Linked DNA regions of Homo sapiens. The protein of the gene in region 4 purifies or fractionates together with the protein of the main gene of each other region. This does not show direct contact. Each region holds a gene or a part of one and is shown on either strand. Other genes may lie near its edges. The genes, in order: TNIP2, CTBS, KLHL20 and RELB.

Region 1 (5,221 bases), on a different chromosome or scaffold from region 4:
GATCTGGGTGTGTCTGTGAGGGTGTTGCCAAGGAGATTAACATTTGAGTCAGTGGGCTGGGGAAGGCAGATCCACCCTCAATCGGGGTGGGCACCATCTAATCAGCTGCCAGCGTGGCCAGAATAAAGCAGGCAGAAAAACGTGAAAAGAGAGACTGGCCTGGCCTCCCAGCCTACATCTTGCTCCGTGCTGGATGCTTCCTGCCCTTGAACATAGGACTCCCAAGTTCTTCAGTTTCGGAACTCGGGACTGGCTCTCCTTGTTCCTCAGCCTGCAGACGGCCTATTGTGGGAACTTGTGATCGTGTGAGTTAATACTTGACACACTCCCCTTTATATATCTATCTGTTCCATTAGTTCTGTCCCTCTAGAGAACCCTAATACAGCCAGGCTCCCACTGACCCCCTTGTCTTGGTGCCCTGGCAGAAGGCAACAGCAGGAGTGTTTTCCCATGCCAGCTGCTGTAAATACTGTTCAGTCCCTGCACCCCAGCTTCCAACACAAATTCTCAGAGCAGTCACAGCAGCAAGAACGTTTATTATAAAAATAGGTGAATAAAGTAAGTGTGCTTTAACTTCCGGCTGGATGACAAATGCTACTGAAATGCAGTTTCTCAGTGCAGACATGTGGCTCGCAATGGCGGGGGTGGCCACCCTAGTGTGACGTGCAGCCGCAATACTCCATTTGACTGGTTCGAGGCAGAGAGGCGACGCTTTATTCCATAGAACAGGATGGGGCTCCCACCCTGGGGACCATACAAGTGACTCCCTCAGGCAGCCACCCCTTTCTAGGCAGGCTGGGGGAGGGGCTGGCACACCAGCACCAGATAGCTCTGGCTTAAGCCTGATGGAGACACAGACTGGGACCTCCCTCTGCCAGATGTTCCTGACCCCATCTCCACCTCCAGCCTCCAGCCTCACTGGCAGTTCCCTGTGACCCAGCCTGTTCCATAGCCAAAGGGACCAAAGTGAACGATCAGAGTGCCCCGCAACTATTCTAGGGGCCTTGGCTCTCAGTAGAGCTCAACCCATGGCATCTGAGAGCACCCACCCTGTCCCTGAGGGCAGCTGCACCGGGCCAGGAGGCCGCAAGGGCACGGGTGAGTCTCGGTCACTGGCAGCACTCAGCCACATGCCTGAGGAGCTCTTCCCCTTGCTCGTCACTGAAGCACTGCAGGCAGTGAGGGCACTGAAGGTCCCCCTGGCCTCTCTGGGCCGCGCCAGGATGCCCGCCCTCTGCAGGGGGTTCTGGCTGCTGGGACCCAGTCCCAGGCCTCCAGCCACCAGGCACCATAAGCTCTAATGCGTCGGCGGCCAAATACTTGGCAGTTTTGCTCCCAGCGTGAATCCGGCCGGCGTCTGGCTCTCGAGAATCCTGGAGAAAAGGCAAGGGTGTATATACGTGGGCTGTGCTGACGGTCACAAAGCCAGGTCTCAGGTTCCAGCAACCAGAGGCACTTCACCTATCCCTGAGCGGAACTTCAGCCCCTCACTTTGCTTCCTGCTGCGCCCCAGAGCCCAGACAAGGGGGCGCTCAGTGAATGACTGAGGATCACACACACGCTCCGTCATGTGCTCATGAAGAAGTAGGCCCTGGCGTGGTCCACCCCCCAGCCCCTTGGTGGAAGTCCTGTTCAGTTGGACCTATCGGCCCCAGGAGACCTGACTGAGAAGGTGGCCCTGATGACGTGGCCCACAGGCCACCACAGAGTGGAGGTGGCAGAGCCTCTGGTGGGGAGCTGGGCAAACTGAGTACCAACCCTACTCTGCACCTCCTCTGTGGGGCCTGGGGGTGCTGAGCACTCTGGGGCTCAGGGGGTCCTTCAGTAGCAGCAAGAGGTGTCCCTGGCTTGGCCCCACCAACCACCTGGCATGATCTGGCACATGTTCTCCAAACATCCGTCCTGAAGCACTGCAGCCTGTGGCCCTCACTGCTTGCCTGGGAACTTCATTCCAGCAGGCCTTGGTGCTTCCACTTCCTGTCTGAATGTGGACTTTCCCCAGTGGGACTACAGCTTATCACCCATGCCTTCAGCACCACTGTCCCTGGCTGTGCCATCTAGGGACTGAGCAACCCTCGAGGGGCCACAGGCTACTGTTGAAAGGGAACCAGAGGCCACTTAGTACAAGGTCTGCAGGCCCCACCAGGAACTTTACCCCCGGGGGTAAGAATCTGGGCCTGCAAGTCTGGAACCAGTTCATCTGGTCCAAAATCTTCAAGAGGCGGCCTGAGACCATCCTCACGATTGTACCAATAGTGCTCCTTCAATCCAAATCACATGCTTCCTTGAATTCATGAAGGCCAGAAAAACCTGTCCAGCCCTCTGCTGCAGACTTAGTCCCAGGGTTAGTCCCATAGTCCACCATGACTCTCCCGTGCCCTTCATGCGGAGGAGAAGCAGAAACCACTGAGGCCCAGTGGCTGCTCGGAACAGGGCAGTGGGGGGTGGCCTCACAGCCCCAGGGTCCCTGTTCACACCCTGAAACACGGCTGACGTCCTAGCTCCAGCCCGGGACGCATCGATTCTCAAGAGGCATCACTACTGTTCAGTCTGTGCCAGGAGAGGAAGCTCTTTGAGTGGGGCCCAGGCTATTCCCAGGGCCAAAAGTGTGTTAGGTACTTGATGAGGAGCTACATAAACTTCTCCTGGATTTTTGCAGAGCACAAGTCAGTGAGGAGAAGGAAGAGGCCATGGGTCACACACTGAGGAACTTCATCGGTTCCCATTCATGCCAGGCCTCCCTCAAGGCACCCCATGGTAGGAAAAGCACTGAGCCCAGGGGTGGGGTGAGGGGCCCCTGCCCTGCAAGGCCCAGCTCCACGTGCCAGGCTGAGCTGGGGATGTTACTGGACACCCAGGGCCATCACATCTACATGACAAGGTAAGCGGGGTTCCCGTCTCACAGACAGGTCAGGACACGTAGGGAGCTCACACTTTGAGGCCCGAGATATGCTCTCTGACTGCATGACAGTGACGGACGGGCCCTGAGGACAGCCACCTCTGCTAAGACAGGCCGCCATGCCAGCCTCCTCCATAACTAAACAGTATAACAGGGAGGCTTTCCATGACCACGCCCAGGTACCAGGCCAGGTGGCTCTCCCCACAGCAGGGAGGGGCTCGCCACAACCCTCATCACCAGCAAATCAGGGCCTTGGCAGACACAGAAAGGCTCTAATCTCATGAGAAGAGAAACAAAAACACTAAACCTAAGCAGGAAGAAAAACGCCCTCATACTCTACCTGTCTCCAGGACACCTGGTGCAGCAAAGAGGCGACCTTTTCCTCCAGTTCTTGAATCCTACTTTGAGCCCGTTCCCGATCGGCCCTTTCTGACATGAAGTCATCCTTGTAAGCGAGAATCTGAAGAGAGGCGAGACACACATTTCTGCTCAAGGAAGGAGGAAGCGCCCCACCAGGCTTCTCCCACCCCCACAGTGACCACTGCCCACTCAGTGCCACCAAGCCTTCAGCCCAGCCTGTCCCATGATTTCGGCCACCACCGGCCAGCAGACATCTGGTCAGTGCCGTCCGGAGCCCGAGGGACAGACACCTGCTGTTCCAGCATCTGCACCCGCTCCAACGCAGCATCCCGGGCCGTCCTGGAGGCCGCCAGCTCCTGCTTCACTTCGGCACAGTCATTTATTTTCTCTTCCAACTGTCTGTTGAGCCGGGAGATCTCCTTCCTCATCAGCTCGGGCTCGTGGGGGATCTGCAGCCCCCTGAGCTGCGCATGGAGCCCCCTCACGTATTCGTCCCTGCTGGCGTTGTAGCGCTGCCACTTGGCATTGAGGTCTTCAACCTGAAGAGGTGGAGCCGGAAAGCTCACGGTGAAGGCAGCTGACAAAGCTGCTCAAGCCAGCACCCAGTGTGAATTATGTATTAGCAGTGATTCGCTGAGTGAGAGTTTCCTCTTAAATGGAAGCTGCCCCTCCCTGTTCTGTAGAGAGCAGACACTAGGCCCGCTAGAGAATCCTGAGGCAGCACGATGACACCCGTACGCAAGCAGCATGAACGGAGGTGGACTCGGTGCAGCTTTGCTGTCTTAGAAAATGGACCTCCTGCTGCTAACTCTTGCATCTCCTTTACTGACTTGTGGATTAATTTTAGGGGGATGGAGATGGACAGGACATGTCCCGTACGTCGTTTTAAGCAAAAAAGTCCAGTCTCTAGGGACTGTGTGTATCAAGTCCTAGTGGCCAGAGGGCGGGGGGCGACTCTGGGCATCAGCCAAGGAAAGAACCCTCACTTACAGTTTGTAAGCCATGTGTTCTTCTCAAACGAAATGTGAAAGACACTCACGTGAGTCACCTTCTGTTTTAACAGTCGATTTTCTTCCTGCAACTTCTCAATAACACTCTGGACAGAGGTGTGCCCATCTGTGTGTTCCGACTGCATGAGGAAGGGACAGAGAGAAGACACTCTGTCACATACAGCAAGAGGGGAGAAAGCTAGACCCAGAGGCTGAGGCCACAGATTATCACTGCGTCCCCCAGTGCAGCGGGTAGTGATCATTCATTTGGTAGAGAAGCAAAGCAGGGACAAGGGACCACCTTCTCCCTGCCCAGGCCCACCCCACCTGGCCCAGGCCAGAGCCCGGATGGGAGGTCTTCAGGCCACACCACCTTTCACACTGTCCTTATCCCGTCCCACCTACCAGTTTGAGCTGTTTGTCTTTTAAATATTTGGAATGTAAATATTCTAAAGCCATAATGTCTGCAGGGATTGGCACACCAGACATGATAAAGTCTTCTCATTGCCAGAGATTTGCCATTATCACAGACAGCAGGGAAGGCAGGAAGCTGAATCCCATTGTAAACCAGAGGATCTCCAGTGAGGGGGCCCCCAGCTGCCCAGGGTGGGCCTGGCCATGCACCCTGCTTACCTCCTTTGGAGCCCATGACACTGTCCTGTCTGCAGACAATCGGGTTCAACCAGGTGATTCTGGACACAGGAATCTAACCTCTGCCCCACGCAGGGTCAGGAGTCACCGAAGCCACAACCCAAACCAACCCCCACTAACAACTACAGAGCTGAATGAAAAGTCTCCTGAAACTCGTGTGTACCCTACAATTCTGACTGTATCTCAGTGACATAATTTTTGAGAATTCCCCTCAAATGACAAAGGAAGTGCACGTCCTAACACAGCCTACACCGGGAAGCCCCGGGTGACTCAGCTGAGTTCAGGGCTGAGAAGTGACACTTATTTAGAGACTGTGATGAGG
Region 2 (7,032 bases), on a different chromosome or scaffold from region 4:
ATAATCCAGATCACTGAGGTACAGCATGCAATTGACCAGCTTAAGAGAAAACTAGATACTGACAAAATGAAACTCATAGTAGAAGTTAAGGTAATTTACATTTTTCCTAATCAGATTATTATAACATTTATCTTGAAATAAAATATTTTGGTGTTTTAACTTTGGGTGTCAATAATATAAGGGTAGCCAGGATTGACTGTATTAAAATTGTTACCTTAACAGTAAAGAGCATAGGTGAAAAAAAAAATGCAGGAAGAAAAACTAAACCTGTGAAAAGATACATGATATAATAAAGCCAAAGTAAAATTTAGTAAAATTTTACTAGGAAGAATTAAAGGAAAAGGAACCTGTGAGTCAATATATTCTCAAAAAAAATTTTAAGTAGTTTTCCTGTATTAGAATTATTAAGTCTGATAAACCACTGAGCTCTCCTCTGAACTGACATTTAATTTTTTATGGGTAATCGTTTCATTTTTTCTGGTTATTTTCATATGTATTCTATTATTTAAATATGAATAATGTGTCTTCTACTAGATGTTAAGTTTCCTTCCTGGCAGAGACTATGCCTTAGTTAACTTTGTTTCTCCCATGGGACCTTTTGTATAGCAGATGCTTAGTAGAGGCTTCTGGGCATGCTCTATTTGGTGAGAATTGTGTACAACTAATTACATCATAGAAATTATCTGTGAAGTACATATGTATTAAAAAGCTTTTTTGTTGAACAGAAAACAGAAGATTATACATTTTCATACAAGTACCCACAGCAAGGCAGGAAAATGAGAACGATAATTATATGAATGCTCTCATTTCTTTATCAGAAACAGCTTTATGACACAGAATAATGACTGCATTCTAGAATTAGCTCTTTTTAAAAAAATTTTAAAAAGAAAAAAGAAAATCAGTACTGTCCTCGGTTTCAGATAAAAATAAAAATAAATAAAATTTAAAAATAAAAAAATAGAATTAGCACTGTCCAACAGAACTTATGTGATGATAGAAATGTTCTATGCCTGCACTGTCAGATTGGTACCCACTAGCCACCTATTGATATTGAGCACTTGAAATGTAGTTTGTGTGACTGAGGAACTGAATTTTAAATTTTATTTAATTTTAGTTAATTTAAGTTTAGTAGTTACATATGGCAACTGGCTTCTACTATACTGGACAGTGCAGTTCTAGATTCTTTTTACAAGCAGCATTCTCGAGGCTAAATAAGCCCTGGTTTGGCACTGAGAAGCTTAAAACTTAAAATAGAAAAGGAAAAGAGCAGAGGATAATTTTTAACAAAATATCAGTTAAATATGCACTCAAAAAATAATTTGTTCAATGAAGGAAAACTGTCTATTCAATATATGGAGATAAAGCCAATATGTAAACTTGTACACTTAATAATTGGGTAGGTAGGAAGGAGTAATAAAAATGCCCCCAGAGGCTTGGATTATGACTCCCCTCATGCTGTTTTCTTCTGGAAAGCATGCACATTACTTGTAATCTTTGTATATTTTAACATTACAAATGTCACTCATGGTTTGAACTCAAATTAGAATTGTTCATACAAAAACAGTAAGGACAAGTGGAATAAGAGGAAAAAAAGAGAACAAAGTTTTCAGCTTATAGGCTGGGGGGAAAAAATCCTGTATTTAACCATAGTGCCTGATTGACACATAACAGACATTATTTAAGAAGTTTTATTGATTTCTGAATGATCTCCCCAAAACAGCACTACCTATAAGATTCAGAACTAAGGGACAAAAAAAACCCAGCCTGAGTCTCTTGCAACCATATTTATTCAAGATAGTATAGCATAAGTAGTGCTTCTCAAAGTTTAATATATCATCTGAGGATCCTGTTTAAAAATGCAGGATCTGACTCAGTAGGTCTGGGTGCAGCCTGAGATTCTTCCTACCTAACAAGCTCCCAACTGATGCTAATGCTGCTGTCCACAGACAACACTTGGAATAGTAAGGGCTCTGGTACCAGGTGGTTTGAATTTGAATCCTGGCTGTACCCACTTCACTTACTAGTTTTTTATCTTGAGCAAGTTACTTAGCCTCTAAAGGTCTCCATTTCAACTGTAAAATGGGGATAAATACTAGTATCTGATTCTGTAAAATTTTTGAAAAAAAAATAAGAGACTAATACACTTAGAAGAGTGCTTGCCACAGAGTAAACACTATATTTCTGAAATATCTATTCCGTTCCTAAGGGCTAGGAATTAAGGGTTTTTTTTGTATTTTGTTTTCTTGTTGTTTTCACTATTTTCTTTACACATTGAGAACAACAGGTTTTGAAGTTTAAGCAAAACATAAAATTCTTTCTCACTCTAGTTTTTAGAACAGTTCAATTGTATTGTCCCTATCTACTCATAAACAAGGTTACCTTATAGCATATCTCACCAGTAGATAAGCATGCTTATTAAACAGCATTCATAATCTACACATTTACTGTAGTAATCCAGTGGGAGTTGAAAGCACTGAAGCCAAATGAGAGAAGACAGTTAAAGCGGTTACAAAAACCCTGTTTACATGACAACTATGATGTACTTTTAGAAGGGTATGATGAAGTTCATTTTTGAAAAGTAATTCTTTTTATAGATGAGAAAACAAGCAGTTTCAGATTTACGAACATTGAAAACTGAACTGGCACAGAAAAAAAAAATAATACATCTCTACAATCTCAATTAGGTATGTTAATTTAAAACTTTTATTTGTAAAAAAATTTAAATATGTATTTGAACAGATTTGTTTAACCATTATTCTCCTTGGCAATGTTTTATAAAAAGCACAAGGTTTCTCTTTCTCCACTTTCCATGTGGGTATTACAAAATGTTTCAGGAAATATTAGATGTAATATAAAGCAAAATGATGAATGGTTATTTTTAACATTCCAAGTCCTTTACATATTATTTTACAGTGCTAATTTTATAATTTTCATTTTAATAATTTAATAATAAAATTCAATAATAATTTATTTAACAATTTAAGAGCTAATATAACTAAAATCTATTTGCAAAGAATAAATGTATATTAATGAATACTAATATATTTGCATGAAAATACAGACTTCATTTAACTTAATTTGTTCATTATATCTTAATTAAAAGAAATCTGGAAATATAAAAGAATGGGGGTATTGAAGTTGCATTCTGAGCTATGATAGAGATAAGCATCTAAGAATTTAAATTTTTTAATTCATTTATTTTAGAAATATGAAGACAACAGTGATCCAACATATACTATGAAAATGGTTTTTACTCTGTCACAAACAATTGTGTAAATAGGAAATGTAATATTCTCATAACAGATGGTTCAATCATCATGTATTCCAATTTACAGGGGCAAAATGTGCAGGGAAGCCAGGATTTATGTAAATCTAGAGTTCAAAGATACAGATTTTTAATCTGTAATTAGGAACTAATAAGGGCAGCACAATGTTGTTCTTAATTCCCTGGAGAAAGAAAACAGACTTTATTACATTTAGAAAACTTATTTGTATAAAATTGATCTTTTAGAAAGAGAACTAGTTGAGAAGCTAATCAGTGTCTTTAGATCATTAAAAGCACAATGCAGCTCATGCCTGTAATCCCAGCTCTTTAGGAAGCCAAGGCAGGAGGAGTGCTTGAGCCCAGGAGTTGGAGACCCATCTGGACAACATAGCGAGACCCTGTCTCTACAAAAAATAAAAATAAAAAAGATACATTGCAGATGTAGAAAGAAAAATTTAACCATGTAAGCAAGCTAGCCAAGAAATAAATTATATATGTCCATAAATGAAGAAATGAATAATTAGAAGTGTGACAGTGAACAGAATCAAGTTCAACTGCAAGTTATTCCTATTATTAAAAATTTTACAAATGAGCCTCATAAAAATAATGTAGTTGGAAAATATTAGGTAGTTCTAACTTACCAATTCAAAATATTACTGTTACATTCTTCTATTTTGTGAATACATTTAATCTTCTGGATTCTTTTTAATTCTCACTCACTGTCCAAAGATTTAGTTCAAGTACCTCAGAGAACATAAATACTATATGGAGTCAGGAAGCAGAAAAATTATTTTCATCAGTTTGATGAACCTAAAGGGGAGACACTACATTGTAGGTTTTAAATTTAAGATTTATTGGAGGGTTGGGGGAAAAGTATAGCACAAACTGCTTTTCAAAGACTAGGTTTTTAAAAACTCTAAGCAAACAATTTCCACTTCAGATTATACATATTTTAAAAATCAGCATTGATTCGTGAGCATATATTTTACTATAATGAAGGGAAATATGGCATAATAAAATTCTGAAAGCAATTTTTCCCAATTAAATTATAGTGTTGAAACATCTAATAGAGGAATATTTAATAGGTAAGTTGACTTGCTTCTTGCCTTTATGTTCCTGGATACTGAGGACATTCGTGTGTATTTTTCAAATTCAAACAATCAAAACATTTATTTATTCTTTTTTTTTAGTATACGGATAACAAAAGTATATAGCAACATAATAAAAATGCAAGAAACTAGATCTGTTGATACAGATCATCTTTCTAACTCTTAATGGTTTGACAAAAGATGTTCATCTCTGTAACAGCTTTGGCTTTAAGACTTCCCACATTTCTTCAGTTTGCTGTTTGGCTACAGCATCTCCAGAGTAGTCAAGACAGTTTGCATTCCACATGCCAATGCCCCGTAAGCGATAGTTTTGTATATATGTTGCCTTTAAAGAAATACTCTGAGGGTTATCATACCATACTTGATGAAAGTGGCCAGCAGGATCCTATATAAATAAATTAAAATGGAGATTTTAAAGTATTTAGTACAATTCAGCACCACAGGAAAGGGAAAAATAAAAGAAGTATACAGTACAGTAAGAGGGAAAAAAGTTTCCTAAATCCAATTATTCAAAAAGGATACAATGAAATAAAAATTTTAGGGCATAACACTTTCCTATTCTATAATTCCATGGTTCTATATTTGATACAAATGGTCCCTGACTTACAATGGTTCAACTTACAATTTTTAGACTTTACGATGGATTTATCAGGGTATTTCGTTCATTTTCAACTTATCATATGTTTATGGGTTTATTAGGACACAATACAATCATAAATCAAGGAACATCTGTACTTTCTAGGTATTATTGCTTATGGCACTTTTAACAATGGCAAAGATTACAGAAACGAGCCTCCTAATAGATTCTACTTGAGCTCCTTTTCATGTCCTAAGATTCTTTCCTTGCCCTTAGCCAGTGATTATTAGCCAAGGCGTACATCTGAATCACTTGCGGAGCTTTTAAAATACAGATTCCTGGGTCCCACACCACATGAAACCTATTGAATCAGAATTCTCCAGGGTTAATGCTAGGGCATATATTTGTTTTGTGTTTTAATGTTTCATTAGATAATGCTGGTATGCAACCAAAGTTAAGGGGAATCAATGCTCTGGTCCTCTAAAACCAGCTTATGTGCTTTTTTGTATTCTCTGTAGTTGCTAGAAGTGTGCCTGGCTAGGAGGTCTACAGAAGATTTTGTTTATGATGAATCAGCCAAGTCAAAAGGTAATGGCAATGGAGGAGAAAAGTACATCCTTTTCTAGGTCTTACAGATACATTCTCAGAGTCTGTTAGGTCTGCACTTTATTGGTGACTTAACATACACCTGATTATGAGCCATAAATTAGATTCTGGTCTTATGTTCACCTTCCACCCTAAAAAGTCCTTCTGCCCAGAATCAACTACCTCTATCTAGTACTAACACAGTCTCTCTCAGGCAGCACATGAGCTATTGGATAAGAGACAAAGGAAAAGGGAAAGGAGCAGATCTAGGACAAAGTGCAAAGGAAGGTGAAAAAGATAGGAGATAAAAAATAGAAAGACCTGTGACTAAAAATAATTTACTTATTTTTATATACATCTAGGAAACTCCTTAAAGGCATTTCTGAATTAATGCCAGTAATATTTACAGCAGCACTCCTGGAATTAGAATAGTCTCTTAAGATGACCACTTTGGGGCCGGGCACGGTGTCTCAGGCCTGTAATACCAGCACTTTGGGAGGCCGAGGCAGGCAGATCATGAGGTCGAGAGATCGAGACCATCCTAGCCAACATGGTGAAACCCCATCTTTACTAAAATACAAAAAAATTAGCTGGGCTTGGTGGTGCATGCCTGTAGTCCCAGCTACTCTCGAGGCTGAGGCAGGAGAATTGCTTGAACCCAGGAGACGGAGGTTGCAGTAAGCTGAGATCACGCCACTGCACTCCAGCCTGGAGACAGAGCAAGACTCCGTCTCAAAAAAAAAAAAAAAAAAGACCACTTTGAAGGAAAATAATTCACCTGGTAAATGAATACACTGCGGCATATTTAAATATGGTAGACTAATTGTAATCAAGCATATCTCAGTCTGTATCTTATATTCCATTCTTTAACATTTTTAGAACTAGACAAAGCCATGCATGCCCTAGTAATAGTTGTGATTCATTATTAAAAGGCAACTTGTAGAACTTGTACTTAAATATGACAGATTATTGAAGATTCAGGGGCAAACCCAAAGACATATACCTTTGAATTTTGCCATCATTCTAGCTAGTACTTTGAGCCTTTTTGATATTATTAAGAAATTCAAATGTCTCAAAATTGTAAAGGAACAAAGGGCAAAAACTAAGCACATGTAAGACTAATTTATGCATGGTTAAGGCATATTTGCTTTCCAGAATATTGAGTCCAAGATGAGCTGCTATTGCTGAAACAGCCCAATAGAGTGATTCTCTTCAAATAAGACAGAAACTTGATTCATGTTGCTACAGAATTTTGCAATTAATAAAAAAGAGGGGGCCAGGCGCGATGGCTTACGCCTGTAATCCCAGCATTTTGGGAGGCCAAGATGGGTGAATCACCTGAGGTCAGGAGTTCAAGACCAGCCTGGCCAACATGGTGAAACCCTGCCTCTACTACAAATACAAAAATTAGCTGGGTGTGGTGATGCATGCCTGTAATCCCAGCTACTCAGGACGCTGAGGCAGGAGAATTGCTTGAACCTGGGAGGCGGAGGGCG
Region 3 (7,032 bases), on a different chromosome or scaffold from region 4:
TCACCCTAATACCAAAACCAGGAAAGAACATAACAAAGAAACAAAACTACAGACCAGTATCCCTGATGAACATAGATGCAAAAATCCTCCACAAAATAATAGCTAACTGAATCCAACAGCATATCAAAAAGATAATCCACCATGATCAAGTGGGTTTCATACCAGGGATGAAGGGATAGTTTAACATATGCAAGTCAATAATTGTGATATACCACATAAACAGAATTAAAAATAAAAATCATATGATCATTTCATTAGATACATAAAAAGCATTTGACAAAATCTAGCATCAATTTATGATTGAAATGCTCAGGAAAATCGGCATAGAAGGGACATACCTTAAGGTAATAAAAACCATCTATGACAAACCTGCAGCCAATATTATACTGAACAGGAAAAGTTGAAAGCATTCCCCCTGAGAACTGGAACAAGACAAAGATGCCCACTTTCACCACTTCTATTCAACATAGTACTTTAAGTCCTAGGCAAAGCAATCACACAAGAGAAAGAAATAAAGGGCATCCAGGACCAGGTGCAGTGGCTCATGCCTGTACTCCCAACACTTTGGGACACCGAGGCAGGTGGATTGCCTGAGCTCAGGAGTTTGAGACCAGCCTGGGCAACATGGCAAAACCGTGTCTCTACAGAAAAATACAAAAATTAGCCGGGCATGATGGTGCGCATCTGTAGTCCCAGCTACGTGGGGGGCTGAGGCGGGAGGATCGCTTGTGCCCTGGAGGTCAAAGCTGGGGGACAAAGCAAGACCTCATCTCTTATAACAAACAAACAAATGAAATAAAGAGCATCCAAATTGTTAAAGAGAAAGTCAAACTGTCGCTGTTTGCCGACAATATGATTGTATACCTAGAAAACCCTAAAGACTCATCCAAAAAGCTCCAAGAACTGGTAAATGAATTCAGTAAAGTTTCAGGGTACAAAATTAATGTACACAAACCAGTAGTACTGCTATACACGAAGAGCAACCAAGCTGAGAATCAAATCAAGAACCCAACCCCTTTTATAATAGCTGCAAAAAAAAAAAAAAAGATAAAATACTTAGGAATATATCTCACTACAGAAGTGAAAGGTCTCTACCAAAACACTGCTGAAAGAAATCATAGATGACACAAACAAATGGAAACACATCTCATGCTCATGAATGGGTAGAATCAATATTGTGAAAATGTCTATACAGCCAAGAGAATCTATAAATTCAATGCAATTCCCATAAAAATACCACCATCATTCTTCACAGAACTAGAAAAAACAATCCTAAAATTCATATGGAACCAAAAATGAGCCCACATACCCAAAGGAAGGCTAAGCAAATCTGGAGGCATCACATTACCTAATTTCAAACTATTTTACAAGGCTATAGTCACCAAAACAGCATGATACTGGCATAAAAATAGGTACATAGACCAATGGAAAGAATAGAGAACCCAGAAATAAAGCCAAATAGTTAAAGCCAACTGATCTTTGACAAAGCAAACAAAAACATAATGTGGGGAAAGGACACCCTATTCAGCAAACAGTGCTGGGATAATTGGCAAGCCACATGTAGAAGAATGAAACTGAATCTTCATCTCTCACCTTATACAAAAACCAACTCAAGATGGATCAAAGACTTAAATCTAAGACATGAAACCATAAAAATTCTAGAAGATAACATTGGAGAAACCCTTCTAGACATTGGCTCAGGCAAAGAGTTCATGATCAAGAACCAAAAGCAAATGCAACAAAAACAAAGATAAATAGATGGAACTTAAACTAAAAAGCTTCTGCACAGCAAAAGAAATAATCAGCAGAGTAAATAGACAACCCACGGAGTGGGAGAGAATGTTTGCAAACTACAGATCCAACCACAGACTAATATCCAGAATCTACAAGGAATTCAAACAAATCACCAAGGAAAAAAACAAATAATTCCATCAAAAAGTGGGCTAAAGACCAATAGACAATTCTCAAAAGAAGATATACAAATGGCCAACAAACATATGAAAAAATGCTCAACATCACTAATGATCAGCAAATCAAAACCACAATGTGATACCACTTTACTCCTGCAAGAATGGCCATAATTTAAAAAATAAAAACATAGGCCGGGTGCGGTGGCTCATGCCTGTAATCCCAGCACTTTGGGAGGCCAAGGCGGGCAGATCACCTGAGGTCAGGAGTTTGAGACCAGCCTGGCCAACATGGTGAAACCCCATCTCTACTAAAAATACAAAAATTAGCTTGGTGTGGTGGCAAATCCCTGTAATCCCAGCTACTCGGGAGGCTGAGGTGGGAGAATCGCTTGAACCCGGGAGGCGGAGGTTGCAGTGAGCCGAGATCATGCCACTGCACTCCAGCCTGGGCAACACAGTGAGACTCTGTTTCAAAATTAAAAAAAAAAAAAAGATGTTGGCATGGATGTGGTGAAAAGGGAACACTTTTACATTGCTGGTGGGAATGTGGACTAGTGCAACCACTATGGAAAACAGTATATGGAGATTTCTTAAAGAACCAAAAGTATATCTACCATTTGTTCCAGCAATCCCACTACTGGTTACTGCCCAGAGGAAAAGAAGTCATTATATGAAAAAGACACTTGCATGTGCATGTTTATAGCAGCACAATTCACAACTGCAAAAATACGGAACCAGCCCAAATGCCCATCAATCAACAAGTGGATAAAGAAAATGTGGTATGTATATATACCACAGAATACTACTCAGCCATAAAAAGGAACAATATATTGGCCAGGAACAGTGACTCACGCCTGTAATCCCAGCACTTTGGTAGGCTGAGGCAAGCAGATCACAGATCACTTGAGGTCAGGAATTTGAGACCAGCCTGGCCAACATGGTGAAACCCCATCTCTAATAAAAATACAAAAATTAGCTGGACATGGTGGCATGTACCTATAGTCCCAGCTACTTGGGAGGCTGAGGCAGGAGAATCACTTGAACCCAGGAGGCAGAAGTTGCAGTGAGCTGAGATTGAGCCCCGTTGCACTCCAGCGTGGGCAACAGAGCAAGTGAGACTCCATCTCAAAAAAAAAAAAAAAAAAAAAAGATAGAATGGCATTTGCAGCAATCTGGATGGAGTTGGTTGGAGACCATTATTCTAAGTGATGTAACTCAGGAATGGAAAACCAAAAATGATATGTTCTCACTTATAAGTGGGAGCTAAGCTATGAGGATGCAAAGTCGTAAGAATGACACAATGGACTTTGGGGATTCAGGGGGAAGTGTGGGAGGTGGGTGAGAGATAAAAGACTACACATTGGGTACGGTGTACACTGCTCGGGTGGTGGATGCACCAAAATCTCAGAAATCATCAATGAAGAACTTATTCATATAATCAAACACCACCTGTTCTCCAAAAACTATTAGGGGGAAAAAAACTATGGTCCTGAGCTGACCACTTTACTGCAAAATAAATAAAAATATGATTTTTTAAAAAGTTGTAAAACAGACCATGTTTTGTCTTTGCTTAAAACCCTTTAATGGTTTTCTAGCACTCTTAGGATCAATCTCAAATTCTTTTTTTTTTTTTTTGAGATAGGGTCTGGTCTGGCTCTCTCACCCAGGCTGGAGTGCAGTGGCACGATCTTGGCTCACTGCAACCTCTACCTCCTGGGCTCAAGCCATCCTCCCACCTCAGCCTCCTAAGTAGCTGGGACTAAGGGTGCACGCCACCATGCCCGACTAATTTTTGTATTTTTTGTAGAGACAGGGTTTCGCCATGTTGCCCAGGCTAGTGTTGAACTCCTGAGCTCATGCAATCTGCCCGCCTCAGCCTCCCAAAGTGCTGGGATCACAGGCATGTGCCACTGCACCAGGCCAATCTCAAATTCTTAACATAGTCTATCAACCTCAGTGTGATTTAGCCCTCTTCTTTCTGTGTAATCACTATGTAACATCCTCTACCCCCCTTGGTCTCTGGGTCTCACTGGGTTTTTTTCAGGTCTTCAAACTAGTGATGCTTTTTAATGTCTTGGGATTTTGCACAAGTTGTTCCAGCACCAAAGTTAAATTTCTCTGTAATACACTCTTAAATCATCCAGGACTGCTTCTTTGTAACACCCATTAACTGTAGTTAATTATTTGTATAATTAAGCATTTAATGATTATCTTCCCTGCTAGATTATAAACTCCATGAATACAGAGACTCTAGATTTCTTGTTCACTATTGTACCCTATGCTCCCAAGCACAGTGGCTGAAACATAGTAGCTTTACAAATATTTGTTAAATAAATAAGGGAAAGATAGGTTTAATGAAAATTATTTTGATAACATCTAAACTCATCTTTTCAGATTATTAGTTTACCAAACAACCTATAATCTATAATTTATTCTGAATAATCCACATAATCAGGAAGGAAATATCTTATATAAATCATGATACCAGGTATCCTATCAGGCATAGATCCTCTTGTGAATTACTCTATTTTGGCTTATAAATAAACCTTTTTAAAAATTTTTTTTTAAATACTTTTATGAATACAGTTAGGGAGAATAAATCCCTAAATCTTAACTTGCTGGTAGAACACAAAATTGCCCTCTAAAATAAAAGCCAGGTTTAGGATTTATAATAACTTATTTATTTGCTATTATGAGTTAGAATCAGCAGGAAATACCCAGGCAAGTGTTATTTAGCAGAATGTGAACCCATATTGCTCTCCAACAAATGGGTGCATTGGAACACCAAGTGCAACTCACCTCTTGAAAGTTATGTTGGGTGAACTTGTCTGCTATCCTTAGCAACTCACGACATGAATGTGTGTCAGCAAAAGCCCGAATGCCCAGGCAGTTAGAAGGATCTAATTGTCTCTTTAAGAATTCACAGCAGGCTTCCTGTATTTCTGCCAGCTGGAGGAGGCAAGCAGCTGGCAGAAGAGTCTGAACATTGCCCTCTTCTACTGTTATCTGGGAGGTATACGCAAAGTCAATCAGTAATTCCATAGCCCTCTCGTCAATGTCTCGGATCACTACTTCTGTCTGACGGCTCTCTGCCAATTCTCCTGTAAACATAGCTCGGAAGTAGGGACTACAGGCTGACAAAATGACTCGATGGGCATATATCTTCTTGGCGCCCACAACTAGCACCACATCACATAGCTCCCGGTGCTTTCTCAGAAGGTTAATCACTTCCAAGGTTTGTCGAGGGTGCTTGTCTGAGATATAGGGCATGCGGGCAGGTTGGGGAACCCCTTCTGGCAGTTTGTTGGGGTCTCCAAGGGTGCAGCGGCTTGTTACATCCATTCCAGTCTCTCCTGGTCGAATGTTGGTACACCTATAGGAATGATGGGGGAGAGAGAGAAGATGGCAGTATTATTATAAGCTCTTTTCTCCCCTTAAATGTTTGTAATTCAAGCGATAAGGAAATGTAATTAGCTTGGTGATTTTTTTTTTAAATTTTTTGTAGAGATGATGTCTCACTGTGTTGCCCAGATTGGTCTCAAACTCTTGGGCTCAAGTGATCCTGTTGCCTCCACCTCCCAAAGTGCTGGGATTGTAGGCATAAGCCAACATGCCTGGTCTACATAAACCATTTAAATTGAGCTACTATAGCAATAAAACTTTTAGATCAGGTGGTTATGCTTATCCATTTTAAAAATTAAGCCCAAGTTAACACGCTTCAATTAATAGTTAAATTTCAAATTAAAGACAATATAAAAAGTTTGGACTGACGGCCTGGTGTGGTGGCTCATGTCTGTAATCCCTGGGAGACTGAGGTAAGCTTATCACTTGAGGCCAGGAGTTCGAAACCAGCCTGGTGAATGTGGCAAAACCCTGTCTCTACTAAAATTACAGAAAAATTAGCCGTGTGTGGTGGCACATGCCTGTAATCCCAGCTGCTTGGGTGGCTGAAGCATGAGAATCACTTGAACCCTGGAGGCAGAGGCTGCAGTAAGCCGAGATTGCATCACTGCACTCCAGTCTGGGTGACAGAGACTCTGTCTCAAAAAAAAAAAAAAAAAAAAGTCTGGATTGAAGTTTATCTTTATATAGAAATCTTTTCTTCAAAGTTTATTAAAATTAAAATAGTAAAGAAAATGGCAAGCTAAATGATGATTTAGCAGGACTCCAAAGAGCCTCCAGGTCAAGATTTTGTTAGATTAATTTGGGTCTAATTTCATATCTAGAGATATTAAATATGATAAGCTTCATTTAAAAGTACTACATATGTTGAATTGCTCCTGTCAAATTGGTCTGAATCACTGAGGTTTCGGTATGATTATAAAATAAGTGAATAAGTTCATAAACAGACATTCTTCAATTTATAAATAAGTAGTATTTAAAAGTTGAATCTAAAAGTTTATTTGGAGGTTTGCATTTTTCTATGGTAAGAGTGCTGTAAATGGGGACTAGGTTTAGTTGTAAAATTCAGTGCCTCATAAGAAGCATTAAAAAATGAAATAGAAAGTAACAGCATACATTTCATTTAGTTAAGCATGTTCAATTGTGTGTATGTACACACACAAATTTGTATAGATACGCATCACTGCTTCCCCTCGTAAACTGCAGGTTATATCAAAAAAGCTTAAATGCCACTGGCCTGAGTTTTGAAATCCCAAGACAAAAGGAACAATAGGTACAAGAAGGGAGAAGGAAAAGAATCTCTCTCTTTTTCAGATTATTCTACCATTTGTTGTTGCTGGGTTTTTTTACTTATTGATTTTTTTTAATTTTTGAGATGAGGGTCTCACTAAGTTGCCCACGCTGGTCTTGAACTCCTAGGCTCAAGCAGTCCTCCTGAGTAGCTGGGATTAAAGGCACATGCCATCACACTGGTTTTTTTTTTTTTTGAGACAGAGTCTGGCTCTGTCACGGAGGCTGGGCTGCAGTGGCGCAATCTCGGCTCACTGCAACTTCCGCCTCCTGGGTTCAAGTGATTCTCCTGCCTCAGCCTCCCAAGTAGCTGGGACTACAGGCATGTGCCACCATGTCTGGCTAATTTTTCGTATTTTTAGTAGAGACGGGGTTTCACCGAGTTAGCCAGGATGGTCTTGATCTCCTGACCTCGTGATCCGCCTGCCTC
Region 4 (7,032 bases):
AAGTAGCTAAGATTACAGGTGCCTGCCACCATGCCTGGCTAATTTTTGTATTTTTATTTTATTTTACTTTTTTGAGATGGAGTCTCGCTCTGTTGGCCAGGCTGGGGTGCAGTGGCACGATCTCAGCTCACTGCACGCTCCACCTCCTGGGTTCACGCCATTCTCCTGCCTCAGCCTCTCGAGTAGCTGGGACTATAGGCGCCCGCCACCACACCTGGCTAATTTTTTGTATTTTTAGTAGAGACGGGGTTTCACCATGTTAGCCAGGATGGTCTCCACCTCCTGACCTTGTGATCTGCCTGCCTTAGTCTCCCAAAGTGCTGGGATTACAGGCCTGAGCCACCACGCTCGGCCAAGAATTTTTGTATTTTTAGTATAGATGGGGTTTCTCCATGTTGGCCAGGCTGGTCTCGAACTCCTGACCTCAGGTGATCCACCTGCCTCGGCCTCCCAAAATGCTGGGATTACAGGCGTGAGCCACCGCGCCTGGTCTCTAGGTTTAAATTCTTTTATCATCCAAACTAATCAAAAGGGCTGGGCACGGTGGTTCGTGCCTGCAATCCCAGCACTTTGGGAGGCTGAGGCGGGTGGATCACCTGAGGCCAGGAGTTCGAGACCAGCCTGGGCAACATGGCAAAACCCCCTCTCTACTAAAAATACAAAATTAGCCAGGCATGATGGTACAGGCCTGTAATCCTACCAACTCAGGAGGCTGAGGCAAGAGGACTGCTTGAACCTGAGAGGCAGAGATCGCACCATTGCACTCCAGCCTGGGCAACAAGAGCAAAACTCTGTCTCAAAAAAAAAAAAAAAGGAATAATAACAAATTCATCAAAATGTATACATTAAGTATGTGCAATTTTTCTTACATCAATTATACCTCAATAAAACTTAAAAAGAAAAACTAGACAGGAAAAAACTAAAACTTTTTTTTCCAAGTAAAAGATTAGGAAAAACTTGGAGCCCACAATTAAAATTATAAGACATCACATTATTTCGGATTTCCAGAATTGTTTTTTTTTTTTTTAGACAGATTCTCTCTGTTGCCCAGGCTGGAGTGCAGTGGTGCGATCCCAGCCTCCAGGGCCTCGAACTCCTAACCTCAGGTGGTCCGCCCACCTCGGCCTCCCCAGATTTTTCTTTTTTAAAAAAGGAAGATATAGCAAGTGAAGCCAGAATTTTTGCTCAGCAGCCACAGGCAGCAGCAAATAAAAACCAGCCCCGTTAGGCAGGGCCAGTCCCACTTGGCAGCTTTGAGTCACTGGCTCAGCCCTGCTGGCATTAAATACCTTCTGAAGCCTGCTCTGAACTTCTAAAGCCCAAGCCTATAAAATACCATTAACCATTGGTCTCAGTGGGGGAGTGCTGCCCCCTAGGGGAAAAATGGGATTTGGGGGGTGGCTGGTTGACACTGATGTGGACCCTACCGCAAGTAGACAGGACCAGTTATGCTGGACAGTTTATAATACCAGGGACAGTCCCGCACAGCCATCCCACAGCCAGCAAGCCTTCTGAACATCCTGCCAAAGATTCGAGTCAATAAGAAACCTGTTTAAAATGACCAGATCCCAGAAACTTGCTCTATTGTTGCTGAGTGGATTTGTTTGTTTGTTTGTTTGTTTGTTTTTAAGACAGGATCTCGCACAGGCTGGAGTGCAATGGCACGATCTCAGCTCACTGCAACCTCCGCCTCCCAGACTCAAGCAATACTTCCACTTTAGTCTCCCAAACATCTGGGCTTACAGGCATGCATCACACCTGGCCCTTGCTCTGTTTGACACCAATAATATTCTTTCCCATAATTGTTTTTCCTTTTTCTTTTTTGAGACGAGGTCTAACTCTGTCACCCAGGCTGGAGTTTCCCATAACTGTAATACCCACTGAATTTTCAAAGATTGCAACCAGCACACTAATTGTTTAGACCAAGAGTTGTTCGCCACTTTGGAAAATCCCCTCACCAACCGCAACCCTGCACGTGTGACATATAAGTCACTAAGTCTGCGCAGCTGGGTCAGGCTGCATTTGTGGCCACGGCATTAACAAGGAGCCTATATATAGTCACAAACAACTGCCACCTTCCTCATATATCCTGTGGGGCGTTTACATATTGAAATAAATGTGATTATATATGCTGTATTAATTTCCTTTTCTTTCTCTTTTATACTACAGTTTGGTGTAAAATATGGAGTTTTGGCCAGGCACGGTGGCTCACGCCTGTAATCCCAGCACTGTGGGAGGCTGAGGCAGGCAGATCACTTGAGGTCAGGAGTTCGAGACCAGCCTGGCCAACATGGTGAAACCCCGTCTCTACTAAAAACACAAAAATTAGCCGGGCCTGCTGGCAGGTGCCTGTAATCTCAGCTACCCGGGAGGCTGAGGCAGGAGAATCACTTGAACTCAGGAGGCGGAGGTTGCATGCCACTGCACTCCAGCCTGGGTGACAGAGCGAGACTGCATCTCAAAAAAAAAATAATAATAAAATAAAATAAAATATGGACTTTGGGAGTGACTGTGAATAGAGGTAGGTAATATTGTCTACAAATCTCACTGGGTCAGATAGGGTTAAAACCATTCATTTAACCAGCTCCCCGCTGTAATAGTAGGAGATTCTGAAAAGCTTAGAGTCAACAGTCTCGGACTCATGCAGACTCCAGGGCTGAAAGCTTTTCATCCTTGAGATGTCAGTTGGGACTGTGGAAAAAACATTAGACTTTAGTTGTTTCTTTTTTCTTTTTTTTTTTTGAGATAGCATCTTTCTCTGTCACCCAGACTGGAGTGCAGTGGTGTGACCATGGCTCACTGCAGCCTCCACTTCCCAGGCTCAAGCAATCCTCCCCATTCAGCCTCCCATGGTGCTGGGACCCCAGGCGCATGCCACCACGCCTGGCTAATTTTTTTATTTTTATAGAGACGGGCATCTTGCCATGTCACCTGGGCTGGTCTTGAACTCCTGGCCTCAAGTGATCCTCCTGCCTTAGTCTCCCAAGGTGCTGGGATCACAGGCATGAGCCACCATGCCTGGCCCATTAGGCTTTAGAATAAGTCCGACCTGGCACCAAATCCAGGCTCTACCACTGGCCATCTACAAGATAAACCTCTCGGGTCTTACTGTCTTTATGTGTAAAATAGGTATGCAAAGTACCTGGTACATGGAAGCACTCAGTAAATGGCGGTAATTACAATAGTAAACTTGCTGTGTGCCCTGTGCAGGTAACTGCCCCTCTTTTAACCTCAGTTTCCTACTCTGAAGATGGGGATAAACATCCTGAATCCAAGCCAGGCATGCTGGCTCATGCCTGTAATCCCAGCACTTTGGGAGGCCGAGGCAGGTGGATTACCTGAGGGCAGGAGTTTGACATCAGCCTGGCCAATGTGGTGAAACCCTGTCTCTACTAAAAATACAAAAATTAGCTGGGCATGGTGGTGCACACCTGTAATCCCAGCTACTTGGGAGGCTAAGACAGGAGAATCGCTTGAACCCAGGAGGCGGAAGTTGCAGTGAGCTGAGATCACACCACTGCACTCCAGCCTGGGCAACAGAGCAAGACTCCGTCTCAAAAAAAAAAAAAAAAATCCTGAATCCAGATTTGGAGACAGGTCATTCCCTATGGTTAGGCATTTACCATTCTAAATCTTGGAAATCAAAACCAACTCTGGGGTCCGAGCACGGTGGCTCACACCTGTAATCCCAGCACTTTGGGAGGCTGAGGCAGACAGATCACTTGGGGTCAGAAGTTCAAGACCAGCCTGGCCAACATGGTGAAACCCCATCTCTACTAAAAGTACAAAATATTAGCCGGACATCATGGCGCGTGCCTGTAATCCCAGCTACTTGGGAGGCTGAGGCAGGAGAATCGCTTGAACCCAGGAGGTGGAGGTTGCTGTGAGCTGAGATTGCACCATTGCACTCCAGCCTGGGTGACAGAGCAAGATTCCATCAAAAAAAAAACCAAAAAACAAAAAAAAACTCTGAGCCAGAATAACTGCCTGGGAAGACTTAGAAATTAGGCCGGTGCGGTGGCTCACACATGTAATTCCAACACTTTGGGAGGCCAAAGTGGGAGGATTGCTTGAGGCCAGAAGTTCAAGACCAGCCTGGACAACATGGTGAGATGCCAACTCTTCAAAAAAATACAAAAATTAGCCAGGCACGGTGGCATGCACCTGTAGTCCCAGCAACTCAGGAGGCTGAGGTGGGAGGGTCTCTTGAGCCTGGGAGGTGGAGGCTGCAGTGAGCCGTGCTTGTGCCACTTTACTCCAGCCTCTGTGACAGAGAGAGACCCTGTCTCCAAAAAAAAAAAAAAAAAAGCCTTAGAAATTAGAAGTTGGGGAATACAGTTAAACATGGGATGATACATCTCAGTATATCATCCCATAGATAACTTACCAATTCATTACAAAGGGAAAGTTGTATCTTTATCATGGAGAGACCTGATAGTCACCACATTAGCTGGAGGATCCAACTCAGCATCACCAATATTGGGAATAACGACATCCCACGTCCCTTGATGTGAGACACTGAGAAGGCCACAGCATCACTGCTGGAGTGTTTCTGCCAAAAATGCATAATCTGACCTAATCTGGAAACAGCCAACAAACCCAGAATGTGGGATATTCTTTTTTTCTTTTTCTTTTTCTTTTTTTTAGAAGGAGTTTTGCTCTTGTCGCTCAGGCCGGAGAGCAATGGCACGATCTTGGCTCACCGCAGCCTCTGCCTCCCGGATTCAAGTGATTCTTCTGCCTCAGCCTCCCGAGTAGCTGGGATTACAGGCATGCACCACCACGCCGCACTAATTTTGTATTTTCAGTAGACATGGGGTTTCTCCATGTTGGTCAGGGTGGTCTCGAACTCCCGACCTCAGGTGATCCGCCTGCCTCGGCCTCCCAAAGTGCTAGGATTACAGGCATGAGCCACCACGACCAGCTTCAGAATGTGGGACATTCTACAAAACATCCGTCCTGTTCTGCACAAATGTTCAACTCACGAAACACAAAGACAGATTGAAGAACAGATCCAGATTAACAGACACCAAAGAGGCCAGGCACAGTGGCTCACACCTGCAATCCCAGCACTCTGGAAGGCCAAGGCATGCGGATCACTTGAGGTCAGGGGTTTGAGACCAGCCTGGCCAACATGGCAAAACCCCTTCTCTACTAAGAAATACAAAAATTAGCCAGGCGTGGTGGTGGACCTGTAATCCCAGCTACTCGGGAGGCTGAGGCAGGAGAATCGCTTGAACCCGGGAGGTGGAGGTTGCAGTGAGGCGAGATCACACCACTGCACTCCAGCCTGGGCAACAGACCAAGACTCCGTCTCAAAAAAATAAAACTTACCTGTACCTTATTAATACATTAATACCCTGCCAAAAGTAATCACCTTTGCTTTTTTTACTTCCAGTGTTATATATATTTGTTTGTTTTTTAATGGAGGCAGGGTATTGCTCTGTTGCTCAGGCTGGAGTGCAGTGGTGCGATCTTGGCTCACTGTAGCCTTGACCTCCTAGGCTCAAGCGATCCTCCCACCTCAGCCCTACCATGTAGCTAGGACTACAGCCATGTGCCACCACACCTGGCTAATTTTTGTATTTTTTGTAGAGATGGGGTTTTGCCGTCTTGCCCAGGCTCATCTAGAACTCCTGAGCTCGAGTGATCCGCTCGCCTCGACCTCCCAAAGTGCTAGAATTACAAGCCTGAGCCACCGCACCACGATCTGCCTTCTTTTTTTTTTTTCTTTTTTTTTGAGACAAGGTCTCACTCTGTTACCCAGACTGCTATGCAATGGTGCAATCTCAGCTCACAGCAGCCTGCACCTCCCTGGGCTCAGCTAATCCTCCCACCTCGGCCTCCTAAATAGCTGGGATTGTGCCACCACACTCGGCTAATTTGTGTACTTTTAGTACAGATGGGGTTTCACCATGTTGGCCAGGCTGGTCTCGAACTCCTGACATCAAGGGATCCGCCCGCCTCAGACTCCCAAAGTACTGGGATTACAGGCGCGAGTCACCGTGCCCAGCCAAATGTCCGACCCCTCCTTTTTTCTGAACCTTTTGGATTCCAGGCCAGGTGATAGTATAATTAATATCTGGTCCAACAATAACAACAACAGCCACCATCAAATAAACGTATAAATGCATGTGGATGGCTCCGGGGTGCAGGGGAAGCCCCAGTCCCACCCGCCCGGGGCCGCTCGCCGGGCCCACCTCGATGGCGGGCAGCGTCTTGCTGGCCTCGGTGCTGCTCTCCCCAAGGATGCTGCCGGCCGAGCGGCCCTCGCACTCGTAGCGGAAGCGCATGCCGCGCTGCTTGGGCTGCTCCGTGATGACCAGGTGCGGCTGCGGGCCCGGGCCCGGCGCTGGGGACACTAGTCGGCCCAGGGGGCAGCCCCAAGGCGGCGGCGTGGCTGGGGGCGCCACAGGGCCCAGGGTGACCGTGCTCAGGGACGCAGCCCCGCGAGACACCAGGCGTGGCAGCCCCTCGCCCGGGCCCGGCTGTCCCCCGTCCAGGCCGAAGCCGTTCTCCTTGATGTACTCGTCGATGATCTCTGCGGGAGAAGAAAAAACGGGTGGTGACGCCCATTCTTTAAAAAATTAAAAAAAAAAAAAAAGGCTTGATTACCCCCGAGACGTTTTCCATCCCATTTATCTCTCTCTCTCTCTCTCTCTCTCTCTCTCTCTCTCTCACACACACACACACACACACACACACACACACACACACACAGAGTCAGGGAGGCCAGGTGCGGTGGCTCACGCCTGTAATCCCAACACCTTGGGAGGCCAAGGTGGGTGAATCAATTGAGGTCAGGAGTTCGAGACCAGCCTGGCCAACATAGTGAAACCCCGTCTCTACAAAAATTAGCCCGAATGGTCTCCCACGTCTGTAATCCCAGCTACTCAGGAGGCTGAGGCAGGAGAACAGCTTGAACCCAGGAGGCGGACACTGCAGTAAGTCAAGATCGTGACACTGCACGCCAGCCTGGGCGACAGAGTGAGACTCCGTCTCTCAATAAATAATAGGCTGGGCGCGGTGGCT

The links.
Region 1: the proteins of RELB (region 4) and TNIP2 purify together in Homo sapiens (affinity purification with mass spectrometry; 2 studies listed by BioGRID and IntAct, with this or other methods). This does not show direct contact.
Region 2: the proteins of RELB (region 4) and CTBS purify together in Homo sapiens (affinity purification with mass spectrometry; 2 studies listed by BioGRID and IntAct, with this or other methods). This does not show direct contact.
Region 3: the proteins of RELB (region 4) and KLHL20 purify together in Homo sapiens (affinity purification with mass spectrometry; 2 studies listed by BioGRID and IntAct, with this or other methods). This does not show direct contact.

Annotation. Positions count from the first base shown.
Region 1 is NC_000004.12:2,741,148-2,746,368, forward strand, and holds the end of TNIP2 (TNFAIP3-interacting protein 2), read right to left. Parts: intron 4,389-5,221; coding exon 4,299-4,388; intron 3,799-4,298; coding exon 3,550-3,798; intron 3,360-3,549; coding exon 3,240-3,359; intron 1,374-3,239; coding exon 1,110-1,373; 3' UTR 501-1,109; downstream 1-500. UniProt on the Homo sapiens protein: Inhibits NF-kappa-B activation by blocking the interaction of RIPK1 with its downstream effector NEMO/IKBKG.
Region 2 is NC_000001.11:84,550,441-84,557,472, forward strand, and holds part of CTBS (di-N-acetylchitobiase precursor), read right to left. Parts: intron 6,056-7,032; exon of another isoform or gene 5,540-6,055; coding exon of another isoform or gene 5,470-5,539; intron 4,760-5,469; coding exon 4,559-4,759; 3' UTR 2,685-4,558; coding exon of another isoform or gene 2,595-2,684; 3' UTR 91-2,594; coding exon of another isoform or gene 1-90. Other genes in the region: SPATA1 (spermatogenesis-associated protein 1), read left to right, coding at 1-90, 2,595-2,684. UniProt on the Homo sapiens protein: Involved in the degradation of asparagine-linked glycoproteins. Hydrolyze of N-acetyl-beta-D-glucosamine (1-4)N-acetylglucosamine chitobiose core from the reducing end of the bond, it requires prior cleavage by glycosylasparaginase.
Region 3 is NC_000001.11:173,731,964-173,738,995, reverse strand, and holds part of KLHL20 (kelch-like protein 20), read right to left. Parts: intron 5,284-7,032; coding exon 4,710-5,283; intron 1-4,709. UniProt on the Homo sapiens protein: Substrate-specific adapter of a BCR (BTB-CUL3-RBX1) E3 ubiquitin-protein ligase complex involved in interferon response and anterograde Golgi to endosome transport.
Region 4 is NC_000019.10:45,011,445-45,018,476, reverse strand, and holds part of RELB (transcription factor RelB), read right to left. Parts: intron 6,542-7,032; coding exon 6,201-6,541; intron 1-6,200.